Linked DNA regions of Homo sapiens: regions 2, 3 and 4 are each reported to be linked to region 1. The links are microRNA targets in miRTarBase. Many come from high-throughput screens and were not tested one by one. Region 1 holds a microRNA gene; each other region holds the end of a gene's coding sequence.

The links. Region 1 holds the annotated microRNA hsa-miR-3674 (AUUGUAGAACCUAAGAUUGGCC, at 2,145-2,166, opposite strand). A microRNA usually pairs through its seed, bases 2 to 8, with sites in the 3' UTR of a target mRNA and lowers its output. Matches are read on the target gene's strand: a 7mer-m8 pairs with bases 2 to 8, a 7mer-A1 pairs with bases 2 to 7 and ends in A, and an 8mer does both.
Region 2: the mRNA of ILDR1 is a reported target of hsa-miR-3674. Seed matches in the 3' UTR shown: 8mer at 4,398-4,405.
Region 3: the mRNA of SNRPA1 is a reported target of hsa-miR-3674. Seed matches in the 3' UTR shown: 8mer at 4,639-4,646.
Region 4: miRTarBase lists KIAA1549 as a target of hsa-miR-3674. Seed matches in the 3' UTR shown: 7mer-A1 at 2,961-2,967, 7mer-m8 at 4,209-4,215 and 8mer at 4,966-4,973.

What each region holds. Positions count from the first base shown.
Region 1 is chr8:1,797,968-1,803,298 of GRCh38, reverse strand. MIR3674 (microRNA 3674) reads right to left here and starts at 2,174; the gene lies at 2,107-2,174. RefSeq lists enhancers at 228-888, 1,549-2,210, 2,044-3,243.
Region 2 is chr3:121,983,694-121,988,839 of GRCh38, forward strand. ILDR1 (immunoglobulin like domain containing receptor 1) reads right to left here. Exons shown (of 8, transcript NM_001199799.2): 8 at 3,630-4,715. The coding sequence ends at 4,674. LOC101927010 (a long non-coding RNA gene) reads left to right here and starts at 4,486. Exons shown (of 2, transcript XR_241555.5): 1 at 4,486-5,146.
Region 3 is chr15:101,276,906-101,282,033 of GRCh38, forward strand. It overlaps SNRPA1 (small nuclear ribonucleoprotein polypeptide A'), which reads right to left. Exons shown (of 9, transcript NM_003090.4): 9 at 4,605-4,877. The coding sequence ends at 4,819. It overlaps SELENOS (selenoprotein S), which reads right to left and starts at 580. Exons shown (of 6, transcript NM_018445.6): 1 at 437-580. The coding sequence starts at 512. RefSeq lists a silencer at 456-785.
Region 4 is chr7:138,833,969-138,839,299 of GRCh38, reverse strand. KIAA1549 reads left to right here. Exons shown (of 20, transcript NM_001164665.2): 20 at 1,140-5,331. The coding sequence ends at 1,394. Among named protein-coding and RNA genes, the nearest start is that of ATP6V0A4, 38 kb to the right of the region's middle.

The DNA.
Region 1 (5,331 bases):
GAGAACAGCATGGGGAGAACCGCCCCCATGATCCAGTCACCTCCGGCCAGCTGTGTCCCTGGGGACTGCAATTCAAGATGAGATTTGGGTGGGGACACAAGGCTAACCATATTACTTGCCAAGGTTAAGGATGAGCCCGTGACACAGCCTCAGGAGGTCCTGACCACATGTGCCCAGGGTGGTCGGGGCACAGCTTGGTTTTATACATTTTAGGGAGACGTGAGACATCAATCAGTAGGTGTAAGATGCACATTGGTTTGGTCTGGAAAGATGGGACAACTCAAAGTGGGGGCTTCCAGGTCACAGGCAGATAAGAGACAAACAGTTGCATTCTTTTGAGTCTGGGATTAGCCCTTCTTTCACCAAATACACAATTTACATGTGAAAGGGGGGTAGAGGAACAGTCACTCTTGCCTTAGTCTGGCTTAGTGAATCTGCATTTTTTTCTTATTTTTTAGAGACAGGGCCTGGCTACATGGCCCAGGATGGTCTCAAACTCCTGGACTCAAGCAATCCTCCTGCCTCAGTTTCCTAAAGTGCTGGTCTTACAGGTGTGAACAACTATGCCCAGCCTGCATCTGCAGTTTTAAGTAAAATGGGAGGCGGGATTCCCTGATGCAGTTCCCAGCTTGATTCTTCCCTTTGGCTTAGTGACTTGGGGTCTCGAGATTTATCTTCCTTTCACAAGAGCCTGTGGTTCCACCGTAAGGACTGGAGTGGCCGATGCAGGGGGAGGAGTTTTGGGTGTGGCCACAGAGGCAGCTCCCAGCAAAGGCTGGCCACTGCATCCCCCTTCCTCACTCTGACTCCAGTCTTTCTGGCCATGAAACTTGACCTCTGTCATTTCAGGGGTTTCTTGTGGCCCCTCCACCCAGGCTAGCCCAGCTGAGCCCTCGAGGCTCCTCCTGCACCCTAGGCCTTGTTCCTATCACTTCCAGAGCCTGTCTGGTCAGTCCGAAGGTCTCTGTGTTAATGTTAATGCCATCGGCTGTTCCTGACCCCAAAGGGAGAGGATACAATGAGGCGTATCAGACCCTCCCCTTCCCGTCCGGCCTGACTTGTTTTTCAGGTTTGTTTGGAATCCTCTTGGCCAAGAGTAGGGGTCCATTCAGTTGGATGGGGGGCTTTTGGTTTTCGGAATTTTATTTTTGGTTTAAAACGGATGCTCACATGGGAGCCTGGGCCCAGAGCGGCCCAGGAAAGCACGTTCCAATGCTCCCTGCAGTGATCTAATGCGCTCAGAAGGTGGGAATGACTGTTCTAGTTCCCAGAGCCCCTTTTGCAGGGGACAGATGCTGGTGTAGAGTCCATGGTGCATTCAAGTCATGTTTCCTGCCCATTCCATCCGAGTGCAGTAGCCTCAGTATCTCATGCTACTAAAGTGATTGTCCAATCACTGTCACCGCCTGAAGGCTGGCTACAAAATTAAGAAATTAAAACTCCTGCCCACTGCACAGAGAAAACCAATTCACTGAAACCATGGTGTTGCAATAAAGAAAGTTTAACTGACACGAGGCCAGCCACGCCACGTGGGAGATGGAGTTATTCCTTTCATGCGCGTCCGTGTGAAGAGACCACCAAACAGGCTTTGTGTGAGCAAAATGGCTGTTTATTTCACCTGGGTGCAGGCGGGCTGAGTCCGAAAAGAGAGTCAGCGAAGGGAGATAAGGGTGGGACCGTTTTATAGGATTTGCGTAGGTAAAGGAAAATTACAGACAAAGGGGGTTTGTTCTCTGGCGGGCAGGAGTGGGGGTCGCAAGATGCTCAGTGGGGGAGCTTTTTGAGCCAGGATGAGCCAGGAAAAGGACTTTCACAAAGTAATGTCATCACTTAAGGCAAGGACCAGCCATTTACACTTCTTTTGTGGTGGAATGTCATCAGTTAAGGTGGGGCAGGGCATATTCACTTCTTTTGTGATTCTTCAGTTACTTCAGGCCATCTGGGCATATACGTGCAAGTCACAGGGGATGCGATGGCTTGGCTTGGGCTCAGAGGCCTGACCATTACTTAAATCAATTTCCCTGAAAATTTGGAGGCTACTGTATTTCAAGGGTAGTTTAGCAGGCCAGGGAGTCCGCTTCTGAGTGGGGCCACAGGATCAGTCGGACATCAGAAATGCAAAAACTTGAAAGGACATCTCAAACGGCCAATCTTAGGTTCTACAATAGTGATGTTTATCTGCAGAAGCTGCAAATCTTGTGACCTCCAGAGTAATGGCTGGTCGTCGTTTACATCTATATTTTAGCAGAATCCAGGCTCCTCTCATCCTCCTAACCTACTGGCCTTTCATTAGCTTTACACAGGCAGTTCAGTTCGGGAGAAGGGCTATTATCGTTTAAACTATAAATATCTTCCAAAATTAGTTTGGCCCAGGCCTAGGAGTGATGAAAGACAGTTTGGAGGTCAAAGGCAGGATGGGGGTTGGTTAGATCAGGTATCTTTCAACGTCATAGTTTTCTCACTGCTGTAATTTCTGAAAGGTGGTTTCATCACTTCCAAGAGGGTAGAAGACATGTCCTACTCTGGCGGCAATTCCTGCGGGTGGCTGAAGGACTGAATCTGCACAGAGCGGCTGTCAGAGGCCAGTGCGTTCTCTGCTCCTTGTGTTCCTATCACCCAACTCTCCTGTAAGCCAGGCAATAAGAGACGGGAGAAAAACATCCTCATGCAAAGCAGCCGGACCCAAAATGAAGAAATGAAAAGATCAGTGGATCGTTAAGACCCGAAGTCAAATTTTTAACATGCCCCTGACTTTGTGGTTTTAAACTTGCCTGTTTGAGACATGTAAATACTCACTGATTTATAAAAACACCAGTCATCAGGCGTGCCAGTTTGATTCCAGAGAAAACAGTAGAGAGTGCCTTATCGGGAAGAACAAATGGCTGCCCTTATCTAGACGCTTTCACTTACTGCATGGTTCAGCACACGGCATTTTCATGATATGCAGAAACCATCTTCATAAAAAGTAATTTTCCACTTGCCCAATTAAATAACTGTCAAAGCGTATTTCCGAGGAAATTACACTGCATTGTTCTTAACTTTGCTTAGTTGTTAAAAAAAAGTTGACATTTTATTGTGAAATAAAACATATGCAGAAGAATTCACAAATCACACATTTACTAAATGATTATAAAGCAAATAGCTATGTAACCAGATCACAAGCAGAGCCCTGCCAGCACCCCAGAACCCCCACGGATCCCATCCTAACCACAGCCCCATTCCCTCATTGGGAAATGTGTTTGGTTTTATTTGCAAGCCAACCCATAACCTCACCTCATGTTCCAAGAAAGTCCCACAGTGATATGAGGCCAATCTGTTCAGCTATTTTTATAGGGAATTCTTTACCGCCTAAATCCAAAATACTTCCAAAATACTTCCCACTTCTGGGAGCCTGGAACTCACTCCCACGCTCTTGGCCTCATCCAGGGAGGAGCTTTCTCGCAAACCTGTCGCTCCAGGTCCTAAGAAACCAGATTTTATTAAAAGATTGGGTTTAGGACAATTAGGTAACTGATTAGTCTATCACAGTTGTCTGTGACAAGAACATAAATATTAGAGTTGAGACGTCAATTTTGTGAATAAAACCAAGCAGAAACCCTAACAAAGGCAAGAAGGGGTTTGTTTAGATCAGATGCAAGGGCTTCTGGTCCAACAGGCAGACAGAGCCCTCATGTCCATCCATTTCCTGCTGAAACCTGGCTAAAAATATTTAAGTGTTGAAAGTAGAGAAAGAAGATAGAAGGCATGGCCGGGTGTAGTGGCTCACACCTGTAATCCCAGCTCTTTGGGAGGCCGAGACAAAAGGATTGTTCAAGGCCAGGAATTCAAGGCCAGCCTGGGCAACATGGTGAGACCCTGTCTCCATTTAGAAGAAAAAGAAGAAGAAGAAGAAGAAGAAGAAGAAGAGGAAGAGGAAGAGGAAGAGGAAGAGGAAGAAGAAGAAGAAGAAGAACAAGAATTGGAGGAGGAGGAGGAGGAGGGGGAGGAGAAGGAGGGGGAGGAGGAGGAGGGGGACGGGGAGGGGGAGGGGGAGGGGGGAGGGGGAGGAGGAGGAGAAGAAGGAGGAGGAGGAGAAGAAGAAGGAGGAGGAGGAGGAGAAGAAGAAGGAGGAGCAGGAGGAGGAATACAATGGTCCAGTGCCAAGACAGTGAAAGGCAGAGGGCCATGGCAAAGTCTGAGGGCTGGAGGCAGATGGACAGATGATGGACGAATGGGCACCGGTGAGGCCAACCAGAGGAGGCTACCGGAGCTACAGGGAGAGCCTTTCAGGCATCTCTGAAAGGGGACATCAGGCGAGGCTGAAAGCAGGAGGCACAGGATCACCAGGTCCTGCTCCACACCCAGGAGGGCAGGTGGCAGCCCCAGCCCAGCTCGGAGGGCCCAGGAGGAATCGGCCAGAAGACACTGTCATGGAGATCCTGAGGCAGCAATGGGAAGCAGGAGGAGTGAAAGAACAGTGGCCTTTGCCTACTTGGATCCAAGAGTTGTGGCAGTCGAATGACAGATCCTTCCGCTCCGCACCCCAGGGGACAGCATGACAGATCCTTCCGCTCCGCACCCCAGGGGACAGAATGACAGATCCTTCCGCCTCACACCCCAGGGGACAGCATGACAGATCCTCTCGCCGCACACCCCAGGGGACAGCATGACAGATCCTCTCGCCGCACACCCCAGGGGACAGCATGACAGATCCTCTCGCCGCACACCCCAGGGGACAGCATGACAGATCCTCTCGCCCCGCACCCCAGGGGACAGCATGACAGATCCTTCCGCCCCGCACCCCAGGGGACAGCATGACAGATCCTTCCGCCCCGCACCCCAGGGGACAGCATGACAGATCCTCTCGCCGCACACCCCAGGGGACAGCATGACAGATCCTCTCGCCCCGCACCCCAGGGGACAGCATGACAGATCCTTCCGCCCCGCACCCCAGGGGACAGCATGACAGATCCTCTCGCCGCACACCCCAGGGGACAGCATGACAGATCCTCTCGCCGCACACCCCAGGGGACAGCATGACAGATCCTCTCGCCGCACACCCCAGGGGACAGCATCACAGATCCTTCCGCTCCGCACCCCAGGGGACAGCATGACAGATCCTTCCGCCCCGCACCCCAGGGACCCCAGAATTCCTTTCAGGGAAACACACCCATGAGAAAAATCTGCGTGATTCAAGAGTTCCTCAGTATGAGACCCACGCGCCTCCCTGGTTATCCCCGGTCCCACAGGCAAACCTCCTTATGCCACAGACACACACACACACACACACACGCACACCCGGGGTTCCACATCCTTTCTCAGTGCCTCATGCTGAGAAATAAATAGTCGAAG
Region 2 (5,146 bases), not on the chromosome of region 1:
CTCCCTGTTTGACCCATAGATTATTTAGAAGTGTGTTATTTAATTTTCAAGTGTTTCAAGAGTTTCCTGTTGTCTTTGTTAGAGATTTTCAGTTTAATTCCATTATGGCCAGAGCACATGATTTCAATTCTTTTAAATTTGTCAAGTTTGTTTTACTATATATTTTATGTCTTTTTCTATTTGATGACTAGTGCATGGGCAATTGAGAAAAATGTATTGTTAGGTGGTATGTCTTATGAATGTTAATTAGACCCTGTTGATTGATTGTGTTGCTCAGATTTTCCATATCCTGGTGATTTTTCTACTTCATAGTTCTATTAGTTACTGGGGAAAGGGGAGAATGATGTTGAAGTTCCCAACCATAATTACAGATTCTGCTATTTCTCATTTCAGCTTTATCAATTGCTGCTTCAGGTATTTAAGGCTCTGTGGTTTAGTTTGTACACATTTAGTATAATGCGTCTTCCTAATTGATCCTCTTATCATTATATAATATCCCCTTTGTCTCTGGCAATTTTCTTTGCTTTGCAGTCTACTTTATCAAACACTACTATTGCCACTCCTGTTTTTTTAAAAAAGTATTAATGTGTATGTGATATATCTTTTTCCACCCTTTTTTACTTTCAACTCACCTGTGTTTGAACTTGAAATGAGTTTCTTATATGCAGCACATAGGATTATGGATGGTTTTTAACTCAGTCTACCAATGTTTGTCTTTTGATTGGTATATTTAGACCATTTACATTTAAGGTCCAGTGTTTACTGATATTTTAGCACTTTAGTCTGTTATTTTGTTATTTATTTTCTATTTGTCTCCTCTGGTTCTTATTTATCTTTCTTGCCTTTCTGCAGCTTATTTAAACATGTTTTAGATTCCATCTTGATTTATTTGTAATACTTCTGAGTTTGTCACTTTGTATAGTTTTCATAGTGGTTGCTCTGGGTGTTACACATGCTACTTATAACAATGTACTGGTATCAATATTCACCACTTCAAATGAAGTGTGGAAACCTCACTTCCATTCAGGTCTCTTTGGCTTCCCCACCTTTAAATATCATTGTTTTAAGTATCAGATGGTGTTACAATTTTTGTTTCAAACATAAAATATATTCTCTAAAACCCATAAGGAAAAAATTGTCTATTGTATGAACCAGTATTTCTGCTCTATTGTTTCTTCTTCCTTCCTGATGTTCTAAGTTTCCTTCTTTTATAATTTGAAGAACTTCCTTTAGCTAGTCTTTTATGGGTAGATTGGCTAGTCACAAAATCTTTTAGTTTTCATTCATCTGTTAATGTTTTTATAATCCCTTCATTTCTAAGAATGTTTTGTTTGTTTTCAAAAGATAATTTTGCTAGATCTAGAATTATAGGAGATGATTCTTTTCTTTCATCCCTTAAAAAATATTTGGCCACTTCCTTATTTATGGTTTCAGATAAGAAATCCATTCAAATTGGTGTTCCCCTACAAGTAATGCACTGTTTCTCACTTGCTGCTTCCAGGACTTTGTTTTTAGTTTTCAAAAAATTATAATGTGCCTGGGCATGGATTTTTTTTTTCTTCTGTGGGATTCATCCGGCTTCTTGAATCTCTAAGTTAGTGTCTTCTATCTAATTTGGAATGTTTTCAGCCTTATTTTTTCAAATATTCATGTCTACCCTTTTTCTCCTTTACTTTCTGTTACTCCGATAATATGAATGCTGGATATTTTGTTATTGTTCCATAGGTCCCTGAGGTCTGTTTATTTTTTCCGGTTTATTTTCTCTCTATTGTTCAGATTGGGTAAATTCTATTGTTCTGTCCTCAAGTTCACAGATTTTTATCCCCCATCATCTCTACTGTACCATTAAGCCTATCCAGTGAGTTTTCAGTTTTTGTATTTTTCAGTTCTATAATTTTCATGTTTCCTTTTGATAAAACTTCTATTTCTATTTTTCTGAGGTTTTTCTGTTTTTTCATGTTTCAAGAGAATTTGTAATTGATTGTTGTAGCATTTTTATGATGTCTGCTTTAAAATTCTTATCAGATAATTTCCAATATCTGGTTCATCTCAATGCTGGAATCCATTGATTTCCTTTTTCACTCAAGTTGTGATTTTATTGTTTCTTGATTTGCACTCTGAACATTTTGCCTATTATGTTAGGAGACTGATTTCTATTTAAATATTTTGTTTTGCAAGGAATCACTCTGTTTAGGTTTAGCATACAGTTTTAGCCTACTTTTGTGGGCTGTAATTCTAATGGCAGCTTAATTTTCAGAGCCCTTGCAGTGTTATTTTAGTTGCTTGGTTTATGTAGGGCTCCCACTGGTCTCTGTTACTGCTGCCTGAAAGGGCAGGAGGAATTTCCCTGGCTGGGTTGCCAAGTGTCTCTTGGTGAGGGTGGGCTATGATAAATCCTGCAGATGCCTCTAGCTGCCCAGATTTCTCTGGGCCTGGGAGGAGAGTCTTGCTTCCACATCGTGGCTTCTGTGACCAGGTTGCTGGCTTCAGAGATGTCGTCTGTGACAGGTCCCTTTTCCTGGTTCTACCAGCCAATCCTAGTATCTCTGGGCAGGAGAGGACAGTCTTAGGCCTGTGCAAAAAGGCTTCCCCAACTGGACCACCTATTTTTCCTAGGTTTCTCTTACTAGCTCCTCCTGTCCACCTCAGTATCTTTTCTTGGAAAAGAGGAGTTTCTGACCCAGCAGGGAATAAGGGTGCTTCCCCTGGTCACTTATTTTTTTTGTAGGCCTCTCAATCAGTCCACTTATTTTTTTGTAGGACTCTCAATCAGTCCCCTTGCCTGAGGTTGCCAGAGGGACTCCATTAGGTTCAGGGGGAAGAATGAGCTACTGGGCTACCTTCTGCTGCTAGATGGAAAGTCAGGAAATACCTTCTGATAGGGGGATATAAAATGCCCTGCCTCTGTGCTGTTCTTCTGGTCCTGGGTTTTCAAACCAACCTGCTTTCTTCTTAACACCCTTTAGAATCCTTTGGTTTTCTCTTGTACCATTTCCAAAATTTATTAAGTTGTGCTTAGCAGGGCATAGCAGGGGAAATGGGACAATGCCATCTTGTCCAGACCAGAAGTCTCTCACCTACTGAATGTTACGTCTACATTATCTGTAAATATATATATATTTTCGCTAATTTAGATCCAATTAAATATGAATAATCAAAAAATCCCAGAGAAGTCTACCTAATGCAGAAATTTAACCTATTTTCTCCACATGTAATTAAATTAATGAGACTGGGGGAAAATGGATGTGTCAATAAATGGGATCTAAAGTGAGCACGTAAGGATATACTGTTAAAGAACATACACACATACTCTCCTTCACTCAGGCCACCTCCTTCCAATCTGCTCAGTGTGGATCTCTCCGTCAAGCACAGATGGATTCATGAAGCCTCCAAAGGGGCTTCGAAAAATGGGAGGGGGTGGTAGAGCCTATTATAGTGAAAATACAGTCCTTTCTTCCTGGGGCCCTCTGAGTGGCAAGACCTGCCTGGATGCTTCTGCTTGGGAAATCTCAACTCTGAAAGGCTGAGTAGTGCCAGGAGAATGGTAGCTCCAGAACTCCCTAGGTTGGTCGGGGTCTTCTCTGAACTTTAGTGGTGAAGGTGGCTTAATCCAATCAAATGCACCAAAGTAGGAAAGCAGATATTTATTTGGAGCAGCATGCTCAGCTTGGCATGTTTTCTTTCTTCCTTATTTATATACTGTGTCATTCCCAAGAAGGATTTAAAGTGACTTCAATCAATACACAATATATATGAAAATATAAATTAGATATACAGGTAAAAAAAGAGCAAGAGGAAAACAAGGCACAGGAATAAGGCTGGTGCAAAACTGCTTCTCTGTGATTTTCTACACTTACAATAAATAGTCCATTTATGGGCTGGCAGGATAAACTCCTAACAAGAAAGGACCCTCAAGACATGCCATGGAGGAAGATACATTCCCATGGGAATGTCCCTATAATACTCCATAGATTTCCTTTTCCTGAAACATGTTTGATTTCTTCTTAAACATTCCCAAGTTCTCATTTTGAGAATGGCCAGGGTTCTGGGCAGTGTAGTCTACTGAAAGACTCAGGCTACTAAGTTCCTGAGGGATCACATTCCAGTCAGGGTCCATTACAAGTCAGAGATTATATAAATATGCAAGAGAGCATGAACCAAGGCTAAAACTACAGTTGGTAATTCCTCGAACTCTAACTTTTTTGTTTTTTGGCCTTTTGGGTTTTTTAGTAATGGGGACTTGCTCTATTGCCCAGGCTGGAATACAGATGTGTGATCATGGGATCCTGGCTCATTGCAGCCTTGCACTCCTGGGCTCAAGGGATCCTTCTGCCTCAGCCTCTTGAGTAGCTGGGACTACAAGTGCATGCCACCACACCTAACTAATTTTTATATTTTTTGTAGAGACGGGGTCTCACTATGTTTCCCAGGCTGATCTTGAACTCCTAGTCTCAAGTGATTCTTAGCCTCCCAAAGTGCTGTGATTACAGGTGTGAGCCACTATACCCAATCTCAAACTCTTGTATTTAAAATTCTTCTATTTGATTCTCAGAATCTAAGCCAAAAACTGTTAGACTCAGACTTGCAGTTCCCAAGTCAGCTGGAAACCTAGGTGATGCTGATGACACACAGGAGCCGAGAAGTAGCCACAGAAGTTGTGCTGTGCTTGGTGACTAAATGACCACACTCCTTCCACTATGAGAGCTGTCTTTCTCCTGGGAAATAGAAGAATACACACACAAAAAAAATCCAGTCAGTGCAATCCGTCTATGCATGTAACACATAATGTGCTCTTGATTTACAAATCCTAAGTGGGTGGTGGCTGCCAGGACAGCAGATCTGAACCTAAAAAGTATTTCTTTACTCTTCATGAAACCAATCTCTCTCCCCAGGCTTAGGTTTTTCTTGCTTACCTCTCTAGAGACTCCCTCAAATACCTTTAATTTCTGAAAATTTCTTCCAGTCTAATTCACTCTGCCTCTTGCTCTGTTTTCTAATACCTTCAAGTCTCCCTTAGACTGAAAAAGGGGTACCCTGTTCCATTCTTCAGTCCATCTCTCTCCCATTCATTCATGAAGACATTGCTCAGTTCTCTTTTTCCTTTTTATAATCTCCTGAATCATTCCTTCCCAGCCCTTTTCTAAAA
Region 3 (5,128 bases), not on the chromosome of region 1:
GTGTGGAGGGCACAGCAACTGGGTTTTGAAGAATGAAGAGCAACTAATCTGAATCAGGAAGGCAAAGGCCTTTCAGAGCCACATAGAAAGGGGTGACAGCGCGGGGAGTCAGGAGTGTGTATGGGGCTGTGTGGGACGGGTCCCAGAGGCAAACGCCAACGGCCGAGTGACCCCAGTAACTACCACAGGAAGGGCTTGGTTCGCAAAAAAGACTTGCGCAAACAAGGGACAGCCGAGCCGCCCAGGGAAGTGCGGCTCCCGAGAAGCCTCCGCGCAAGGTCCGGGCCTGCTGCCCAAGGTCCGCGTAAGCGCCAACGCCCGACCGTTCCCAGGCCTCCCAGGCTCCGGCGCCCGGTGCAGCGGCGGACGACCCACCCATCATGGCTGCGCGTCGCAAAAGTGGCGGCGCGCGCCCGGCTGCCCCGCAACGACTCACCCGTGGTGTGCAGGAAGCGCAGCCCCTCGGTCTCCAGGGCCGGCCGCGCGGACAGAGACTCCTCTTGGCGTTCCATGACCGCCGCCGCCGCCGCCGCCCAGCCCTGCCGCCGCGCCTCCAGCCGGGCGCTTCCGGTGCGCTCCTACGCACACGTGGCGCGCCCGGACGCGGTCGTGGTCCCGGCCAATCGCAGGCCGACCCCGCCCCGTCGCTGGGCCAAACGCAGGGGGGCGTGGCCGAGGGGCGTGGCGGGGGAGAAATCCCGGCTACGCTCGCCGGGGCCGGGACAGCGCGTGTGGGAACGTTCTGTGCTATCTCTTGGCTTGAGTCGGGGGTGGAGGACGGACCTCGTTCACGGATTTCTTACCGAATTTCTACTTTCTTTTTTTTTTCTAATTGGACACTGAAGCCAAGGAAGTCAGTGGTCGCCCGGAAGCAGGATTTGCACCCACATCCTTGCCCGGGGCACATTGGACAACAGGGCTCAGTTGGTTGACGACTCCCAGCATTTGAGGGTTGCAGCCAACGTCCACCCCAAGTGAAGACACGAAATGTGAGCAGCCTCCTGCTCCTGCTGCTGGTGATACCTTTCAGGCCAAGAAAGTCCCCACCGATCCTCAAGGTTCTTTCTCCAAAATCAAAGCCTTTTAGGAAAGAACGATCATAGTAACTGCTCTAACCTGTGTTGAATTATACTGTATCACCACAAGACACGATCACAGAGTTACTTATAATAGTGTCCTGGCTGTGTTCCTCTGCCTGCAACGCCGTCCCGCACCCTCTTCCACCACTCAAACGTCACCACCTTTATGGTGACCATAACCATCCTATTTGAAATGTGACCTTGGGTTTTTCTGGAGCATTTGAAGTGCACATACCTAGCTGTGTTTCAAAAGAAGGGTTGGGAATTGGGAATAGAACTGAAAAAATAATGAATAGGTGACAACATCCGAGTGCTGCGTCACCACTGTCGCCAGGAGCAGTGTGGGGAAGGCAAACCATGACATGAAGCGTGAACGCAATCAGTGTTTCTTCAATGCAGGTTTGCCAAGAAGTTCCTCAAGGGGGACAGCTGCAGGGATTTGAGCACTGACCTCATCAAGCTTTCCCAGCAGTGTGTTCAGAAAGCAATAAAGGGGACCTGGCATTCATGAGCCATAGCAAAGAGAAGCCTGAAAGCTCTTCTTCCCTGTTGGCCACCTTGAAAATGGACTCCTCAGATGAACCGAGGACTCTGGATGTTATCCATAAAGGCTGTGAAGATAGCTTATCGATTTAATGAGGAATTTTAGGAGGGAGAATTTCCTTCTTCATGTTTGCCTTTCCGTTGTAAAAGGTGATGAACCATCACCACTCTTTGCTTTGCTACAGATGATTTCTCACTTGCTCTGGCATCTTGCAGGAACATTTATGTGCTAAATTGAATGACTTCTATGGAATTAGTTGCAATTCTCAGTCCCAGATTAGCTTTAAATCCGCCTTACATCTAAATACTGATAAACTAGACAGGATGAGCAGGGTTGCCTCAACTATTTTGTTAGGCTGTGAAGGACATTAGGTATACCGTACTGGGGTCATAGTTCATGGAAAAAAATGGTTAGGGCCTCACTTTTCTCTCAGGAAACTCATACCAAAACAGTTTCAATCAATGCTTGGGAGCAGTTTTATTTTTATACAGTAACTTAACAGGATGGTTTAACACAAGAGTTCCCCATCTTGACAAGGTGTCAGATGAAGACTTGAGAGCTTCAAGAATGTTGCAGTGGGCCAGGAGTGGTGGCTCTTGCCTGTAATCCTATTGCACTTTAGGAGGCTGAGGCAGGAGGATCACTTGAGGCCAGGAGTTCAAGACCAGCCTGGGCAACACAGCAAGATCCCATCTCTACAAAAAAATTTGGCCAGGCACGGTGGCTCACGCCTGTAATCCCAGCACTTTGGGAGGCCGAGGTGCATGGATCACCTGAGGTCAGGAGTTCAAGACCAGCCTGGCTAACATGGTGAAACCCTGTCTCTACTAAAAATACAAAAATTAGCCAGGTGTGATGGCGGGCGCCTGTAATCCCAGCTACTAGGGAGGCTGAGGCAGGAGAATCGCTTGAACCTGGGAGGCAGAGGTTGCAGTGAGCTAAGATTGTACCACTGCACTCCACAGCCTGGATGACAGAGCAAGACTGTCTAAAAAAGAAAGAAAAGAAAAGAAAAAAAACCCACAAAACTTAGTTATGGAAGAAGATCCTAAATTGCAAAGATTTGTTGTTGCCGGCTTTCAATCCATGTCAATGAATTAAAGTCAACGTGCACAGTATAAAAATGCCAAAATGTTGCATCTGATTAAATGAAGGGAACGTTTGCTTTATTTGCCTTGTTTAGCTACCTTATCCTGTAATGTCTGTAATCACAAAGATGGAATAAATTGTAACATTTTAGGTTCTATCATTAAAAAAAGGCAACAATCCTTTTCACTCAGGACTTTGCGATATAAAATGGAAACCAGTATTAACTCATGAAAATAATGCACATTCTAAGCATATAGAAAACCAAAGTATCCTTGTAAACTATTGTGAACTATTGTATACATATATACATATAATGCATATATTCCACTAAAATCTAATAGATATTATTTGAATGCATGGATGATGGCTTTTCAGTTCCTAGCACATTGATCTTATGGTCCTATTGATAGAAGTTACTCATCCTAGCCAGGAATTTGTTACCTTTGTCCCTTTAATCAGGTGTTATAACCTCACCTGGCTTGGCTTGTCTAGAACTGGAAAGGTATTTCAACAAACACTTTGCTCAATGTAATTGCTCAGGTATTATTTGCAAAAAGAGGACAAAGGTGGACAGTAACCAGGGCTGCCACCTATCACTGACTGTTGTAGGCTAAATGATTGGCCGAGGCTGAAAGAGTGGCCCTAATTTGTCACTCCTTCTCACAGCCATATCCTTGCTATGGCAAGGTCAAAGGAGTATATTTCCCCATCATCCTTTGACTTTGTACTTGGCGAGGTGGCTTGCTTTGGTTAATATCAAGTGGGCAGAAATAAGTGTGTCAGTTTTGAGTGTAGGTAGGCCTTAAGAAGCTCCTAGTGTTTATTTCTTGTGCCTTTGCCGGGTGAGCTGGCTTATCTGAGACCTGTAAAGAAACCAAGCCACCCCAGTTAATCCAGACCTACAGTGATAAGCAGAGCCAACTACATAATAGTGTTGTTGATTAAAACCCCTGAGTTTGGCCAGGCGTGGTGGCTCACGCCTGTAATCCCAGCACTTTGGGCGGCCGAGGCGGGAGGATCATGAGGTCAGGAGATTGACACCATCCTGGCTAACACAGTGAAACCCCATCTCTACTAAAAATACAAAAAATTAGCCGGGCGTGATGGCGGACGCCTGTAGTCCCAGCTACTTGGGAGGCTGAGGCAGGAGAATGCTGTGAACCCAGGAGGCGGAGCTTGCAGTGAGCCGAGATCGCGCCACTGCACTCCAGCCTGGGGGACAGAGCAAGACTCCGTCTCAAAAAAAAAACAACAAACAAAACCCTGAGTTTTCGGGTGGATTGTTATACAGCATTATTGCAGCAAGAGCTAACTGATAAAGTGCCAAGCTTTTCACAAAAGTATATGCAACAAGATGGGATTAAGACTGTCGTGGCTAAGGGGGATCAGAGAGATGGCAATGAAACAGTAGTGTTCTTCAAATATGAGTAACTTACGCCCCTTTCAACAAATGTTCTTGTAGACTCTCCATATGACCTTTATGTTAACTATGTACATATATAAAACTAAAGGCTGGGTATGGTGGCTCAGGCCTGTACTCCCTTGGGAGGCCAAGGCGGGAGGATCACTTGAAGCCAGAGTTGGAGACCAGCCTGGGGGCGGGGGAGAAAAAAACAAAAAACATAGCCAGGTTTGGTGGGACACACCAATCAATTTCAAAAATGGAATCATTTCAGTTGTCCTATCAGAAGCCGGAGCGACAGGTAAGTCTGCACTAACAGAAGGGCTATGTGGGAGTGGAAAAGGCGGCCTTCCTGGCATGTGTCATGACACTGCAGGAGCCAGACGCTAATCCAGCCCAGGAAGCCTACCGAGAAAACGCTGCCCTCCTGCATTTCCAATTTCAACGTGTCCTTAGACCTCACTGCAAATGCACCATGATGACACACAACTTGGTAGCATAGTGAGTGGAGTTTATTTTTATAATTTGTAGAAAATTGACATTTAGATTTCAAAACTTATATTACAAAATTATCAGCAGCAGTCTTAAGCATTTCAACAATGCTGATAGATTCCACTTTGCTAACACAAACAAGGCTATTATACCATGTTCGAAAAGCAAGACTTGTTCCAAGAGGGCCTATTATTATACATCTGCCTCACTGCTCAGGACCCGTTTGTGACTGTGTCTTCTTCCATCTCTTCTTCACCATCATCAGTGGGCCCTAAAGAAAACCACCAAAGCAAAAGTAGTATCAATTTTAGAGAATCCATTCCCTTAGCATGCAAGTGTTTGTTCTGTGGCCACTGTTTGTTACACACTGAAGTAGGTACAAAAAGATCAAAAGCAGCACCTGCCTTTGAGGAGCTTATCGTCCAGGGACGGTCTAGTCTGTCTTTGGCAGGTACTGGAAGGGATGCTCAATTTCAAAGGAAAAGGGTCACAAAGATTTCAAAATTGTTGCCTCCCATTGTA
Region 4 (5,331 bases), not on the chromosome of region 1:
AATAACCACCCAGAATATTACTTTTTGTTTTCTCCTTATCGTTATGCTACAGTGTCTGTTGCATTTCTGTGCCTTCCCAACAGACACACTCAATTCCTTTCATGGCTGGATGCTCTTACCTAGTAAAAAGACATTAACTTTAGAATAAGGTGCTTCCCTAAAAGAGACATTGTTATACTTAGAGTCTCAGGTATCTGCTTTAAGTTTGCTGCCATTTCTCTTTTTTTGCCTTCATTTTGCCCAGCTTAGCTTCATGAGGTGTTTGGGGTTGGTTTTGGTGTTTTGTTTTTTTGAAAAAATGGAGGCAAGGTCTCACTATGTTGGCCAGGCTGGTCTTGAACTCCTGGCCTCAAGCAATCCTCTCTCCTTGGCCTCCCAAAGGATTGGGGTTACAAGTATGAGACACCGTGCCTGGCATGGTGTGTTAAGGTTTTCCTGTCACATCCACTTTGGAACACTGCTCGGTCACTATTTGGAGAAGTGAAACGTAGAAAGAACCTAGAGCTGGAATGTCATGTTTGGCTCACAAATAACTTAGCCCTAACATGGTTTTTAGTACGCAGATTTAAGTACTCTTACATATAAATGCAAAGAGACATTTATTTCCACTGGGAGAGAAATAAACATGAAAAAAAAATCTGAAAAGTGTAATAATTCTTGTGAAACTCCTGCCAAATTAATCTCTATGCGGCAAATATCAGCAAAACTATTTTATGCTTTAGTGCAGATAAGTTTTTAAAGACAAGGCTCTACAGAGCCCTCAGTAGACACACACTCACGCAGAGACAGGAGACAGACAGCAGCTAGATAAAGCAGAAGATGGTTGCGTAGGCTCCAGTCCAGGGCAGAGGCACCTGTTCCCCTTGTCAGCCTGGCATGGATCCGCTTAACCTCCTTCAGCTCTCAGATATCACCCGACCTTTCACATCATGGGGCACTCCAGCCTCCCTCCCTTCTGTTCTCCCCAGCCCCCTGGTGTCTTCACGCCTCACCTGCAGCATAGGCAGCAGGGCCCTGTTAGAGGGCTGAGTTGGTGGATGGACGTGGGCAGTCCTGGGAACCTTCCTAAAGCCAGTTTGCATTTGATGTTTCGGCTTATTCTTCGTAGGAAGTACAGTGACGTTTGCCATGTTTTTCAGACACACATGCTCGGACATCAAGAGTATTCTTCTTCACCGCTATTTCAGGTGCCAAGGACTTCAGGCAGGGAGCCCTCAGCTCCTTCCGGGAACCTCCCCCACCGGGGACTGCAGGGCCCTGGGCTGGGTTACCCCACCAGCTCCACGGAAGACCTCCAGCCTGGCCACTCCTCGGCCTCTCTCATCAAAGCAATCCGCGAGGAGCTCCTCCGGCTCTCCCAGAAACAGAGCACCGTGCAGAACTTCCACAGCTGATCGGCCTCGCCTCGCAGATTTGCCAAGTATCCGCTTCCTGTGGAAGCAAGACCAAAAGGAAATCAACTGAGTGGGTGTTTGGAAGAGGAAGGAGCAACTCTCGGGCAGCCTGCCCAAGGGAGGGAGCAAGTTGCAATTTAGAAGATGCCATACGTCGTGTGACAGCTCATGAGCCTTTCACTGGGCTGGCAATTGTCTGAACACTTGGGTTCAGTTGAAATATATGTATTTTGGCCAAAAGCCAGCAGCACTTCACAAAAACAAAACACAAACCTAAGCTAACAAAATGACTGCATTCGTCTCTTTTTTAAAGGTAGAGATTAAACTGTATAGACAGCATAGGGATGAAAGGAACCAAGCGTTTCTGTGGGATTGAGACTGGTACGTGTACGATGAACCTGCTGCTTTGTTTTCTGAGAAGAGGTTTGAAGACATTTTATTAACAGCTTAATTTTTCTCTTTTACTCCATAGGAACTTATTTTAATAGTAACATTAACAACAAGAATACTAAGACTGTTTGGGAATTTTAAAAAGCTACTAGTGAGAAACCAAATGATAGGTTGTAGAGCCTGATGACTCCAAACAAAGCCATCACCCGCATTCTTCCTCCTTCTTCTGGTGCTACAGCTCCAAGGGCCCTTCACCTTCATGTCTGAAATGGAACTTTGGCTTTTTCAGTGGAAGAATATGTTGAAGGTTTCATTTTGTTCTAGAAAAAAAAAATCCCTCCCAAAGTGGGGCAAAAAGCTTTATATTTATTTGATTATCCAAAATACAGATCAAAGTTTAGATCTACATTCTTCATTGTATTTGCTGTTTCTTAATTGGGCACACACAACTCCTGGTCATGTCCCAGTTCAGCACCGATCGCTAAGGCCGATCCTGTAGAATGCGGCTTTCAAGAGGTCCTAACTGATCCTTTCTTCCACTTTGCTGTTGATTTGTTCACAAATTATGTCTGAATGAGAAATCTTCTGTAAGCAGAAGTTATTTAATAATTCCCAGCACCACGAAATTGTTATACATACATCCCTACCAGTCACATTCCCTGTGTTCAGAGCCTGGAAATGAAATTGAGTTCAGTTCAGCCTCTCTGTAATGAATCAAGAAATGTAAAAGAGCTTTGAGACCCCAAGGGAAAGGAGAGAGTTGCTTCTCATTTCTGATTTTATTGTGCTGTTACTCTGTCGAGTGGCTATTAAAATTGTCTTATGCTCTTTGGGCTAAGAGGGGATCATCTCGCTTAAGATGTACTCCTGATGTAAACATTTCCCCCACTTTCCAAATAATGGTAAAGAAAACAGTGGCAAGGGCTGTTCTGTTTTCTGGTACCTGAGTGAAACTCAGAAGAAAAGCAGGCTTAGCTAAGAGATTTTCACTATTAACCTGTTTTTATTAGATCAGCGAAGACAGTCATGCATCGCTTAATGATGGGGATGCATTCTGAGAAATGTGTCATTAGGCTGTTTTGTTGCTGTGCCAACATCCTAGATTGTACTTACACAACCTACATGGTATAGCCTACTACACACCTGGGCTGTGTGGCATGGCCTATTCCTCTTAGGCTACAAACCTGTACAGCATGTTACTGTACTGAACACAATGGTAAGTATTTGTGTATCTAAACATAGCTAAACATAGAAAAGGTATGGTAAAAATACAATTTTATAATCTTATGGGACTACCATCAATATGTAGACCGTCATTGACCAAAACATCCTGATGTGTGCATGACTGTACTTTTCATTAAATAACAGATAAGGGGCTATAGAATTTGGGGCTCTGACTGATCAAAACCTGTGTATCTGTGTCAAGTTTTAAGACCCCTGAAACAGCTAAAACAGGTTTCCAAAGTGTAATCACTGGATTTCAAAACCATGTTTTAGCCCTTCATTAATGAAGCCTGTTGTACAGATTTAGAGTCTTACAATATGAGGGAAGTTGGTTCTGGGAAGGTAAGATGTAGCCAGTTTTCATCTGGGCACCTCTGAAAGAGAAGGAGTGCAGGAGAGTAAGTCTCTCAAGGACGTTCAACAAAGGACCAGCAGCATCTTATCAGGCGATCCTCAGAGGCTCCAAGGAGCATTGGAGAGAATGCCCCTTTCTGGGCTTGATGTCTTGGTTTTGGTTTAATACCAAATTTCTCTTGGTCTTGGTTTAATACCCGACTCCTCCCAAATTGAACGATTATCTTTGTATGTCACTCAAAAATACCAGGTTTCCTGAATATGTTATTAAGAATTTCAGATATCCAAGCAGAATTTTATTATGGACACCTTGTAATGAATTCAAATCGTGTGACAGCAAACGGGATAAATGGCCCCTTCTCACCCAGTTCCGCTCAGGGCCATACAGGCTTGCACATAGAGTGTGCTAAAAATGGTAACCTCCTTTGAGCATTGCAGAAAGAGGGTTCTGTTTCAAATTGGGCTGACCGTAAAAGCAATTTTGATGTCTTTCAAACTACCATAAAGGGATTTTAACTGTATTTTTATTCTTAGAAACAATACACCTTTAAACAGATGTCAAGACCAAAGATGATGTATAATAAACAGCCGGTGGTTATGGTGTGGTGTGAGCAGGCCCCCGGATCACCAGCCCTCTGCTGGTGGTCATAAAGCACACACAGTTTGTACTTGCTTCCTCTCGACGCCTGCCACAACAGTTTTGCCAGTCACCAAACTCAGAAAAAACTAGCTGTGTGAGCAGCACCGTACCCTAGCGGTCTTCAGACATTAAGTTCACGTCATCCACTGAAAGGAAGGGTCCTTGCGTTGACAGCGTGTGGCTTTGGAGTCCGTTTATGGAAGCACTCTACAATGAACAGTTGAATTTTATGTCTATTCTTTTTTCCTATTTTAAAAGTTCTAGTGGTAACACAAACTGTAAATTTGAGTCAGAATGTTTGGAGAAATGTTGTTTTTTTTTTTTTCAGAGACTACTTTGTCACTCACTGACCATGTCTGGTTCCTTCTCTGAACTTCATTCTCCCCATAAGCCAAACAAGAACAGACCTCCCCCGCCACCTCCCAGGCACCGTAGTTGTGAGAATCAGATGTGATCATGTGTGCAGATGTCCTGTGAGGAGGGAGCATAAAGCACTGTGAAAATGTAGCATGCTGTCTATGTGGACGCCCTAGGATGAGTGATGTGAAACGCTGCACTACTGCGGTGAATGGGTTCACACATGGGTAATGAGCAAAACCGAAAGCTCGGTGTGACTCAGTTTCCTCACTCCCATTTTGCTTTAATTTCACTTCCTTCACCAATTTTCCGATTGCATTTATTAAGCATCTTTCTGCTCCCGACTTTCTGGTGTCTCTGGCACCAAATAACCCAGCAGACATGAGCCTTGCCTTCTGAGATTTTAGAATCTAAGATAGCACGAGTGGGTATAGAAGATGGAAGATACCGATAAATAACATGGTTTAAGTGTCAATAAAATTCATTCGAAGAGATCAGGCGCGGTGGCTCACGCCTGTAATCCCAGCATTTTGGGAGGCTGAGGCAGGTGGATCACTTGAGATCAAGAGCTTAAAACCAGCCCAGGCAACATGGCAAAACCCCGTCTCTACAAAAAAATACAAAAACTAGCTGGGTGTGGTGGCGCATGCCTGTAGTCCCAGCTGAGGCACGATAATTGCTTGAACCCGGGGGGTGGAGGTTGCAGTGAGCTGAGATTGCACCACTGTACTCCAACCTGGGCGACAGAGCAAGACTGTGTCTCAAAAAGAAAAAAATTTGTTCAAAAGACATAAATGAATTAGGCACCCAGAAGAAGTTGCATGTTTGGAAATGCAATATCTTGGGGAGACGTCAACTTCTGAAGTGACTTTGAAGGCAGGGCAGCTACCCAGGCAAATGGCGTGGAAGGAAGAGCTGAGAGTGGGCCTGGGAAAGGCTGTAGGGAAGGAGTGAAGCTGTCACTGAAATGAA